Regions from separate parts of the Homo sapiens genome. Here region 1 is linked to region 2. Evidence: fine-mapped expression QTL. A gene starts in region 2. The other region holds a variant in brackets. All regions are shown on one strand. Distances are between the middles of the regions. Region 1 overlaps LINC02941 (long intergenic non-protein coding RNA 2941). Region 2 holds the start of LINC02941 (long intergenic non-protein coding RNA 2941).

Evidence for each region. PIP is the estimated chance that this variant, and not a neighbour inherited with it, causes the effect. A credible set is the group of variants that fine-mapping cannot tell apart.
Region 1: its variant is the best candidate, but not a certain one, in a credible set for the expression of LINC02941 in tibial artery (GTEx, PIP 0.85).

Annotation. Positions count from the first base shown.
Region 1 is chr6:140,035,197-140,040,593 of GRCh38, forward strand. All of the region lies in intron 1 of LINC02941 (long intergenic non-protein coding RNA 2941), which reads left to right. LOC107986652 (a long non-coding RNA gene) reads right to left here. Exons shown (of 3, transcript XR_001744384.2): 3 at 1,073-1,428. Among named protein-coding and RNA genes, the nearest start is that of LINC02941, 62 kb to the left of the region's middle. The variant A/T (reference allele first, on the strand shown) is at 2,151.
Region 2 is chr6:139,973,909-139,979,305 of GRCh38, forward strand. LINC02941 (long intergenic non-protein coding RNA 2941) reads left to right here and starts at 2,411. Exons shown (of 2, transcript NR_121623.1): 1 at 2,411-2,524. It overlaps LOC103352541 (a long non-coding RNA gene), which reads right to left. Exons shown (of 3, transcript NR_121624.1): 2 at 4,714-4,965; 3 at 4,442-4,496.

The sequences.
Region 1 (5,397 bases), 61 kb after region 2:
TGGGTTCTACGCTCATGAACATCAAAAAGAGTTTTGTTTGCATTGCATAATTGGACATCTAAGAGCAACGCTCATATAAATGAAAACTTTGAAAGAGTATCTGCATTAAGAAAGATGTCTTTATATCCACTTGGGAGAAATGATCCTCATATAAAGTTATATAAAATTTGGGATGAACTCTCTCATTCTTTTTCATCAAAAAACTAGATGAGAGATAATTATTAATGAATCAAGTTTGGTGAGAGAGATGTCAAATGGTTTTATATAAAATGGTAAACAGGCAAGTTATTGATAATGTCATACTGTATATATCATTCTTTGTATGTACACTTATTCTTGTGGGCCATGAAATTAATATATAGCATCTACAAATTGATATTCTGTTATGCTAATAAATACTCTTATTATAGAGATGTGAAAATAAGTAGAATCCTGTCATTGATACATTTTTATTTGTTTGGTTCAAAAAACACTTTGGCCTATAATGCGGATGCCTCTAACTACCTGTTGAAAGGTATAGTTAGTGCCTAGAAGAAAACAAGTAGCCTGATGTAAACCTAAATATTGAAAATTTCAGGAAATATCATAGCAATAAACACTACTACAAAGAAACATTCAATACAACAATGCCTGTTTTTTTCGTCTTAAAAGTTGATATGAGAACAATGTTTAGTTACCTTGGTTACAGCAAATTCTGCACAATATGCTGTTTGTCTCTGAAGGAAATTTGTGTATGTGTTATTGTGGGAGGTAGTAGCAAAGAGAAATTGATATATTTTTACAGATTTTTCTTCTATTATTAAGTAATTTTTGTGTCAACCTTCTTTCGTCGATTAAATAAAAATATACTTATGCAAACATCACTCTTCTGCCTAAAACTATCCTTAGGCATACCTCTGCATACTTCTCATTTACCCACCAGACACAGAGACTTCTGCCTAAGGAAAGGAAATAAGGAGTTTGATGGTCAGCATAAACTTTAAAAGTGGCAGTATATGATTTTATCACCAGATGTGGAATATGAGAATTACAAAAATTGAGCTAGAGAGTTATTTTCTCCTGATATTTCTTCTTGACCTTGGAAACTGGGAGAAGTGAGTTATTCTTGTAAGACAATGAGGAAATGTAAGTGATGAAATGTAAAAACGAAACAAAACCCCCCCAAAAACCCTCAGAGTCTAGAATTATCTTTCTTCTACCACAGCTACTTCCGTCGGTGAAGGAAAACTTACATTCTGGCTGCATTTGTCAAGGGTGGCTCCATATTGAGGAAGTAGCTAATCAATGCAATGAAAGCATGAGCAGCCAACAGTCTTGTTTCCTTATGCAAGTGATACTCTGGGTTCAATTCTCTTCACTATAGAAGAAAGCAGGAAATCTGGTTCCTTTCTTCTGCTGCTTCTCCTGTCTCCTCATCTTGCAGGTAGCCTGGTGCAGAAAAATAAAGAGCAGGAATAATTAGCTGTCTTATATAGTAACCAGTCTCCCATTTTTTCTTTAATTACAGAATTTTGAATCTTACTGAATTATTATTGCATAATTGGCCACTCTGTAAAAGGACAATGTTCTCCAGCCTCCCTTGCAGCTATATGTGGCTACATAACCAAGTTTTGAACTATGGGATTTGAACAGCTGAGATGAGTGTAACTTCTGGGTCACATAGTTAAAGGAAATAATTGTGCCCTCTCTGGCTGTTTTCCCTCTTTATCCTGATGAGAACAAAGGCATGATGGCAAGATCTGAAACAATGAACTTGGCCCAGCTAATGGAAGCCATGCATTAAAGATGGCAGAGCAGCAAGTTAGAAGAGTCCTGGGTTCCTGGAGGTTGTCAGATCTCCTTCTTTGTCTCAGACTGTAATGTTCAAACTTTTCATGAGGGAGAAATAAACTTCTAACTTACCTAATGCACTGTTACAGTGGGTCTCTCTGTTATAACAGTGGAACTTTGATGTTGCCAAAACTTATAAACAGCAAAATGGGAGCTTCTCAAAATTTAATGGACACAAGAATCACCTAGGGATCATGTTAAAATGCTGATTCTGATTCAGTAGAGGTGATAGATACATTTTATTTATCAGCTTGGCTAAGCTATTGTGCCCAGTGTTTTTGTCAAACATTAGTCTGGATGTTGCTATGAAGGATTGTAGA[A/T]GTGACTAATATAATCAGTTGACTTTAAGTAAGGGAGTTTGCCACCAGAGATGTGGATGGACCGTTAATGGACCATGATGCACTGTCAATTGAATGCCTAAAAAGTAAAAAGCAAAGTTTCCCAGAGAAGATAGAGTCCTTTGTTAATACTGCTACATAGAAATCCTGCCTGAGTTTCCAGCCTGCTGGCCTTTTCTGTAAATTTCAGGTTTGCCAGCTCCCACAACTGCATGTGCCTGTTCTTTAAAATAAGTCTCTTCACACACACACACACACACACACACACACACACACACACACACACACACTCTCTCTCTCTCTCTCTCTCTCTCTCTATATATATATATATATATATATATATAAAAATAGATCTATATACATGTATATATACACACATAGGCATATATACATATATTTTATTGATTTTGTTTCTTTGTTTTTATACCTACTGTTTAATACAGTAGGTATAAAGCAAATCCTGAGAGTTTGCATTTCTAGTTAGTTCCCAATGCTGCTGCTCTGAGCACTATGCTTTGCATAGTAAGATTCTAGAAAACTGTTTTTCAGGAATCATATGCTTCAGTCCAGACTTTGACAGAAATTTTCTGTGAAACCTCAGGAATGCCATGCAGTACGTAGCTCTCACTTCCTCATCTATGAGATGAGAATGTTGGATTATATGATCCCTGTGACCCTCTCAGGATCTAATACATGGTAACTTTGTGACCCTCTTGCCAAGAGGTCCAGGTGGGAAGGCAACATGGGGATAGAGCTTGTGGCACGGCAGACCCCAGAGCTGTATCAAAGTGTGTGGTCATCATGCATGGCTTCTTGGTGCTGTGGCACTGATTTCCTGTGTTGTTACACCCGATGGACATTTGTAAGTTGTATGGGCAGCCATTGAGCTGGTGACATCTTACATCCAGCAACTTGATGCATGAGAAAAGAGACTCAATTCTAGCATGTTAGATCTGGAAGAGAAATCTAAGAGCTTGATTTTCTTTCTTCCCCAGGAAACTCATTTCCCAGCGCAAAGGACAGAGCAGGTCCAATGACATGAAACAACCTCTTTGTGTCATTACCTTATATTTTATGCATATGTGTGTTATAATGACTGTAGAATAATCTTACAAATTAGAGAACTATGTCAATGAACTTACTCGTTTACTTCCCAAATCTGGACTAGGATTTGGAAAATTTTAATAATAGCATCACTATTTCATTTATTCTTTAAGAGTAATAACAAAGAGTCTTAAAATTACAATCTGTCAAAGTTGTGCTTCTATTAGAAGCTTTCAGGTGCTGTAAACAGGGCTGTGCTGTAGAATACAGATATTCCTTCTGACAGTATGATCCATACCTATTTGTCAGCTTTACTTTCTAAAATCCTAAATTGAAAAAGGGCTTTGTTATTATCCTTTGGGGCCACAACCAAATGGAGCTGTAATCATTCTTGAATGGTGAGAATCTGTTTTCATCCATACTACAGAACTTTTAGTCTCAAAACAGATATATTCAAATGTACAATATGGTCCAGTAGCCACCAGACAGTCTTTACGTAGGGGTTGCAATTCCTTCACTCTCCTGTTGTCTTAAAGCCCAATCATAACATGGCATGAAAAATGGGCTTACTGCATTGTACAAATGCTAATAGATTGTTTACTGATGGGGTTTTGGGTGGCCTTATATCAATAGAATAGCAAAGGCTACTCTAGGAACATATCTGTTCTGAGAACATATATCTATTCATTCAAAGTAAGATTGTATATGTATATATCCCACATATCTGGGATAAATAGATTTCTTAACTTTTACCTGAAATGCTGCAGGAGGTTTGTGTTCATTTCAGTGTGACTACATGTATGTAAGTGTGCTTTTGCTATGTGTGTGTATGTATGCATGTGTGGTATGTGCACATGGGTTAAGACTGTGAGTGGAAAAAAGAGTCAATTTCTTTTTCTTAGCATGTGAATTTGAATGCAATCAAGAACTTTAATTTATTTTCTTATTTTCTCAGTGTCAAGTACTTTTTCTGTCTCCCTCCCTTAAAAAATTGCCTTAGGAGAGTCTTCTAATAGATGCTACTCTTTTTTTTAATGCCTAAAGGACATGATTGCTTAAACAAAATGAAACAAAAAAAGAGCTAGAAAGCGGCAAAGGGATGGAAGACATTTGACCAGAAATAGGAACCTATTGCTGCCTTGGGTGGAAGTATTCTTTCTCAACATTTGGGGTTAAGGACAGAAAAAGAAATGAGGATATGAGAAAAAAAAATATCTGAGTGGACAAAAACTGACACTTATCTTTATTTAAGCCCATTTATTTCTATTTTAAATTGTCCCTGGAAAGAAAAACAGGATGGAAAGCTTAAAAGGGATAGAACCTGGTATCCGTGTATTCTATCCTTCACCTACCATATTAAAATAGATCCACTTGCTCTAAAGGAGGTTGACATAACCTTTTATGAACTATCAATGCTATATCAAAAATCCTGACATTCTTCATTCTACAGAATACAAACAGCACCTTTCATATTGTGACAGCAAAGCACCGTGGTAGTCTGATTTGTGGTTGTTTGGATGTTTGGTTTTTAAAATTATTTTCATTAATTTTATAAAGTGTTAGGAGTTGAATGACTGTGAAAGAACAAATACATCTAGTTTATCTTTGTTGCATTTCTTCTGGTCTATTTTCATTTGTCGAGGAATGACAATATTCAGGAGCTAGTGGCAATTGAAATCAGACTTTGAGAATTTTGGCTCAGCTTGAGATAGCTTATTGTAAAAACATCAGAGTTAGTTGTGTTGTTTTAAACTGGTCGAATCATTGCTAACTGATTTGCACAAGGAATTAACTTCATTTTATGGAAGAATTTGTATTCATCTACTGTTGACTGCCTTATTCCTATCTCAACATTAGTCTATTCAGAATGTGGGATCAGCTGCATATCTCTGGCCCTCTATCGAACCCTGACAATATAATGGACCTATTTTGTAGTTAATTCATGGTGTCTGGTATGGATCCAGCAGTTTAACAGATGGATCTCTAGTCAGTCTCTTCTCAAACTCTTTATTAAATATTTATAGAGCCAGATTGAAAATAGGCCCAGCTTTGCTCCTGGAGGTATGTGTACAGACCTCTGGACCAGGGAAGATCAACCTGGTCAGTTCAGGGAGGAGAGACAAAATCTTTTCTTCAAAAAGTTTCAGAAGCACATTGAGTAATTGCCTTACTCATAGTGAGATCA
Region 2 (5,397 bases):
AATACATAAAAATGTGACCCTCCAGAATTATTTTACATTTTAGCAGAAAGAAATGGTTTCAGTGGAGCTATCCTAACAGTGCTTTTGTATGTCTTGCTTAATAACTCCCTTTCCCTTAATTGAAAAAGGAAAGAAAAAAAATAAAGAATGATGCTGGTTTGGAAATACTTTTAGAGATTGCTGTCTCCAACTGTGCTTGTTCTCGCTGTCTGTTATGGTCCATTAGATAAACATGGTGTTCAACAGTCAGGCTGTTGTTGATATATTTGGCAACACTGATAATGTGATCTATGTTTAGGAGGAAGTGGATGCATCATTCCATGCGGGCATAGGTTTTCTGAAAGTGATTGTTCTTTTTACAAGAAAAAGTTAGATAAGTCATTGAACCTTAAATTCTCACTAAGAGTCTGAACATTTTTAATTTTTGTCATCTGAGGTTTTTTTTTTTTGGTGCTTTTATTGGAATTTCAGATTAATAGTTGGGCTTATTCTCAGAAGCAACCAGTACTAACTGAAAATAAATGCAAACCTGGTTGCTTCTGACTCTTGAGGGTGAAATTAGTATAACAAGAAAAAGGGAGGTGCTTGTTATCTGAGTATATTTCTTTATTGTTCATCAATCACAGTTTTTAGTGTTTTCATTTGTAACCTGCAAGTTTAAAAACAAACAGAAAAGAACCTTGAATCTTAAGATTCTTTTTCTGTTTCTCTCCCTTATATCTATTTATCTATTTATCAATTAATCTACCTACCTGCCTATCTACCTATCTCTCTCTACATACACATATACACATATGTACTATATTTAGACTACATATGTATAGTACATATGTATATGTATATTTAGTACGTATGTATATGTATATGTGTATTTATGTGTATATTTGGACTGTACATATACAGTCTAAATATAGTACATATATGTATGTATTTATACTATATATGCATATTTATACACATATACAGTCTCTTTATATATGTAGTCCTGAAGAAAGGATTGGAATATATTTCATCAAATAAAATACTAACATATTTTGGACATAAAAGGGCATAAAGTCTGAGACATGGAATGTCTTGTAATGTCCAGCTGAATCCTAAATATCCTCAGTGATAGGATTTCAGGCATTTCTCTTGGAAAGTGATTCCATTATCTAATAGTTTTCATTGGGAGGAAATTTTTCCCAACAGGCTTAATGTTCCTCTTCTCAACTGGTTCCATTAAACCTAATTACCCCTTCCTAAAGCTGAGCAATTCCTCTCCTATTGGTATTTACCAAGTTTTAATAGTGGAAAGCAACAATTAGCTCTTCAGCTGTCATAAAATCAGTGTATTTTAAACTTTTTTGGTGTTTCTTTTTAAATGGTATACATACATGCATATGTATATGTGTATCACACATACAACTAGTCACCAAATTTGCTTTAGTGTTTACTTAATGCTGAAATCATATCAGTATTTCAGATGTGCTTACATGGTAAGACATTATTGACTTTTCTCTTATAAATTCTTTATGTCCACAGGTGGCCACTAACAATATAGTAGCCTTCATTCACATTTTATAAAAATGGGTTATAGGTGACAAGCCACAGCTTAACAATCTCTAGCCTCTGTGAAAGTTGGCTTATGTCTATAGTTTGGGCTGGTGAAGATTCCAAGAAAAAAATGCCACTGACCCCATTCAGTTCCATCAAGAAAGGGAATTTTGTTCTATGGGGGAGATGGATGTTATTACTTATTCTCTAGAGAGGGACGTTTAAAATCACTTCAGATTGTTGGAATCTATAGCCTGCGCTATCATGGCAGGAAGCTCAGTGATTTTTAAATTATTTACAGGTAAAATCCCCACCTCCTGTAGTTTTTATTTTTAGAGTGTCCATTTCAGGATTTTAATGCTGAGAAAGTGAAACTATGCTCGCTCTTGTCATCTTCTTCCCTCTCTCTTCCTTTGACCTTCCCCCTTCGCCTCCCCTTCCCTCCTAGTGCTCTGCTCCTTCCCATTTCCTTTCCTACCTCAAATCCCATTACCCACCGCCATACCTTTTTTCCTTCTTTCTCTGACTCTGATTTTTCCCAGTTCTCTCTTAATGAGGTTTATTTGTGAGCCTCAAGCCTCATATTATTGTTCAGTCTTTGGGTATCCTCCATGCTGGGGGCTCCTTCCTGGGCCCATGAAAGATGAGTTTAGGGTCTGAAAGAAGGATCTTTCTTCTTGCCCTCAAGTCACTTCTGTAGCCTGTTGTGGTTTGCATGCTAGATGCATCTGGACTACATGGAAAAGATTTCCTAGAAGTGTCTATGGACTGACTGTGTTACTCCCAAATTCATATGTTGAAGTCCTAATCCCCATCTTGATGGTATTTGGAGGTGGGGCCTTTGGGAGGTAGTTAGGCTTAGATGAGATCATGAGGTTGGGGACTACGTGATGGGATTAATGTCTTTCAAAGGAAATGAAGAAACACAGGAGCTTTCTCTCTCTCCATGCTCAGGTACTGAGGAAAGATCATATGAGCACACAGCAAAAAGGTAACTATCTATCAGGTAGGAAGAATGCCCTCACCAAGAACCATATCGGCCAGTACCTTGATCTTAGACTTCCCAGCCTCCAGAACTGTGAGAAAATAAATGTCTGTTGTTGAAGCCACCACATCCATGGTATTTTGTTGTAGCAGCCCAAACTGACTAAGACAAAGTATCTTCTTTTCAAAGATTGGACTTTATATTTTTTACTTGTGTTAGTATTTCATAATCCCAAAGTTCTACAACTTCCATATAACAAAAATTTTGAATTCAGTACAATGACCTTGTAAGTATTTCATTTATAACAAGCCTCTTTAAAATATATTTAGTAACATTGCTTTAATTAGAAAGAATTTAAAATATACGATGATGTCTTAGGTATGTTTATTTTTAGTGAGAATTGATTTGGTTGCTTTGTTTTGTTTTGAGATAGGGTCTCGCTCTGTCACCCAGGCTGCTGGAGTGCAGCGACGGAATGCAGTGGCACGATTTCAGCTCACTGCAACCTCAACCTCCTGGGCTCAGGTGATTCTCCCATCTCAGCCTCCAAAGTAGCTGGGACTACAAGCAGACACCACCACACCAACTAATTTTTGTATCTTTTATAGAGACAAGGTCTCAGTTTACTGCCAGGCTGGTCTCGAACTCCAGGCTTAAGCCAGCCACCCAAAGTGCTATGATTATAGGTGTGAACCACTGTGCCTGGCTGTTGTTGTTTTTAGTCATGAAATATTCAACTTTGTCCAGCCATCCTGGGCTACTCTAACAACTGTAATTGCTTTATAACTACTTAGCTATGGATTTCTGGAATCTGAAATTGAGGCCATAAGCAGAAATGACTAAAATATAGAATTCTTTCTCCTATCTTTATTTGTTCATCTAGATATTGGAACTGTATCATTAAATTTAAAGGGGGGAACTAGTATTGACAACAAATTAAATTATTTCAACCAAAACCACTTAATAGGTATGTTGACTGTTAGTCATTACCAAATCAGCTAAGAAAAAATAGTTTTATTTCCACTTTGTTGATTCAACAAATAATTTTCATATTTGTAATTCATATTGACAGTCACAGATTCCTAGGATCTCTATTAACAGATACCTCGTTTGTGCCTGTGATTATTTCTTCATCTGTGCCTGTCTTTGCCCTTTCCTAGCTGAATGTCCTTGAAAAAATCATTTGGCCTTTTTGTGTCTGTTTCCTCATCATGAGGTGGAAAAATACATAGAGTCAAATGTGTGAGGTTGTTTCCAGAAATTAATTTAAGTAAGCACTTTGAATACTACCAGACCATAGTAAGTTCTATGATGATGACGACAGATCCAGTTGAGAGCTCATTTGCTGGCAGCATCCTAAATAACTCTGCTTCATGGAAGAAAGGCTCTGTAAATACCAAAGATTAAGATCCTTGGTTTAAGACTCAAGGAATCTGTTTACAAGGTAAGTAAGCAAGAGAACAAAAACAAAACATAGTTTATACAAGGCCCATTCAATCACAATCTTATCTTTTCAATTTCAAGTCTATCCCCTTTAAGTTTCCATGACATAAATATCAGCTGACATACACACAAGGTGACTCACCTTCTTCCCATTAAACTAGGTTGAGATTAAAAACAAACAAGCAAACAGCTGGAATGTGGCACGTGGGTCAGACCCTTCTGAGTCCAGTTGGGTAACTCAGCAGAGATCAGAATGATCTTCAAAAACCAACAAGCCATTGGCACGTATCTTCAGGCATGCTTGAAGTCTATGGGGCCAAATGGTAGAGTATCCTGGCAGAGCCAAAAAGTCTTCTTTTATGACACAGAAAAGAAAACTTCTTTCAAAGTAGTTATGCAACCCAGGAGAACACAATGCATCCACTGTGTGTGTCCTGGGGCTGTCTATGAACACATGATTTCATATTTTTGTCCTCTGTAAACTTCAGCATTGATGATGAACATTATTTCAAGGAAATATCCCACTACTTTATCTCTGTAAAGACATCCATAGAGAATGTAAGTTATAATTTCCTTATTCATTTTTCTGGTTAGAGAAGGCATTTCTATTTTAATGGTCAATTATTATATTCTGAATTTGCCACAAGTCTCCTTTTCATATTTAAACACTAGGGTTTTTTTTTGTTTGTTTTTTAAATTCTTAAGATAAATAGAAAAGTTAAGGTTAGAAAATGTTCAAAACAATTGCTCACCTTATAAAATCTTGTTAGGGAAGTAATTTTGCTCATTTCATACTGTTGACATTTCTGAATTTCAGTAATCATTAATTTTTTTAAAGCTGCCAGCAGATATGTACAATACTCCTTTTAGATATTATTCCCATCAAAGACAGATTTCACCTCTTTCACTCTTTGTGTCATTTCTCTATTATTTTGAAAATATTACTAATGCCTTCAAGTTCATTTGTATTCTGTAAGATTCTCCTTGTATCCAAGCAACTCCATCTGAAAAAATAATTTGTTTTTTTTAATGAGAGATATATTCAAAACAAAACCCTGCATATATTTATGATTTTTTGGTAATAATTTTCATGATACTAATTTCCTGGAAAGGGATTTGCACTTCACGAACAAACAGTGATTTCCTTTGAAACCTTCTCTGGTCTATGTCACCACAGTTATCTAAACAATTTAGATGTCCCTTTCTTGACTAAACTTTTAAAAAATGTTGATTCTGTTCTGTTTTTAGAAATGATACACATCATCAGATAATTTGTAAAACAGAAAATATATTAAAAAATAAAAACTTCCTTAAATAACCATGGGATAATCAAGGTTGTAGTAGACTGCCAAGTGAGTTATAAAAACTCCAGAATTATGTCAGAATTAGACAGATAACCAAAGAATCTGTGGGGCACTTTGATGAACTCAAGTGAA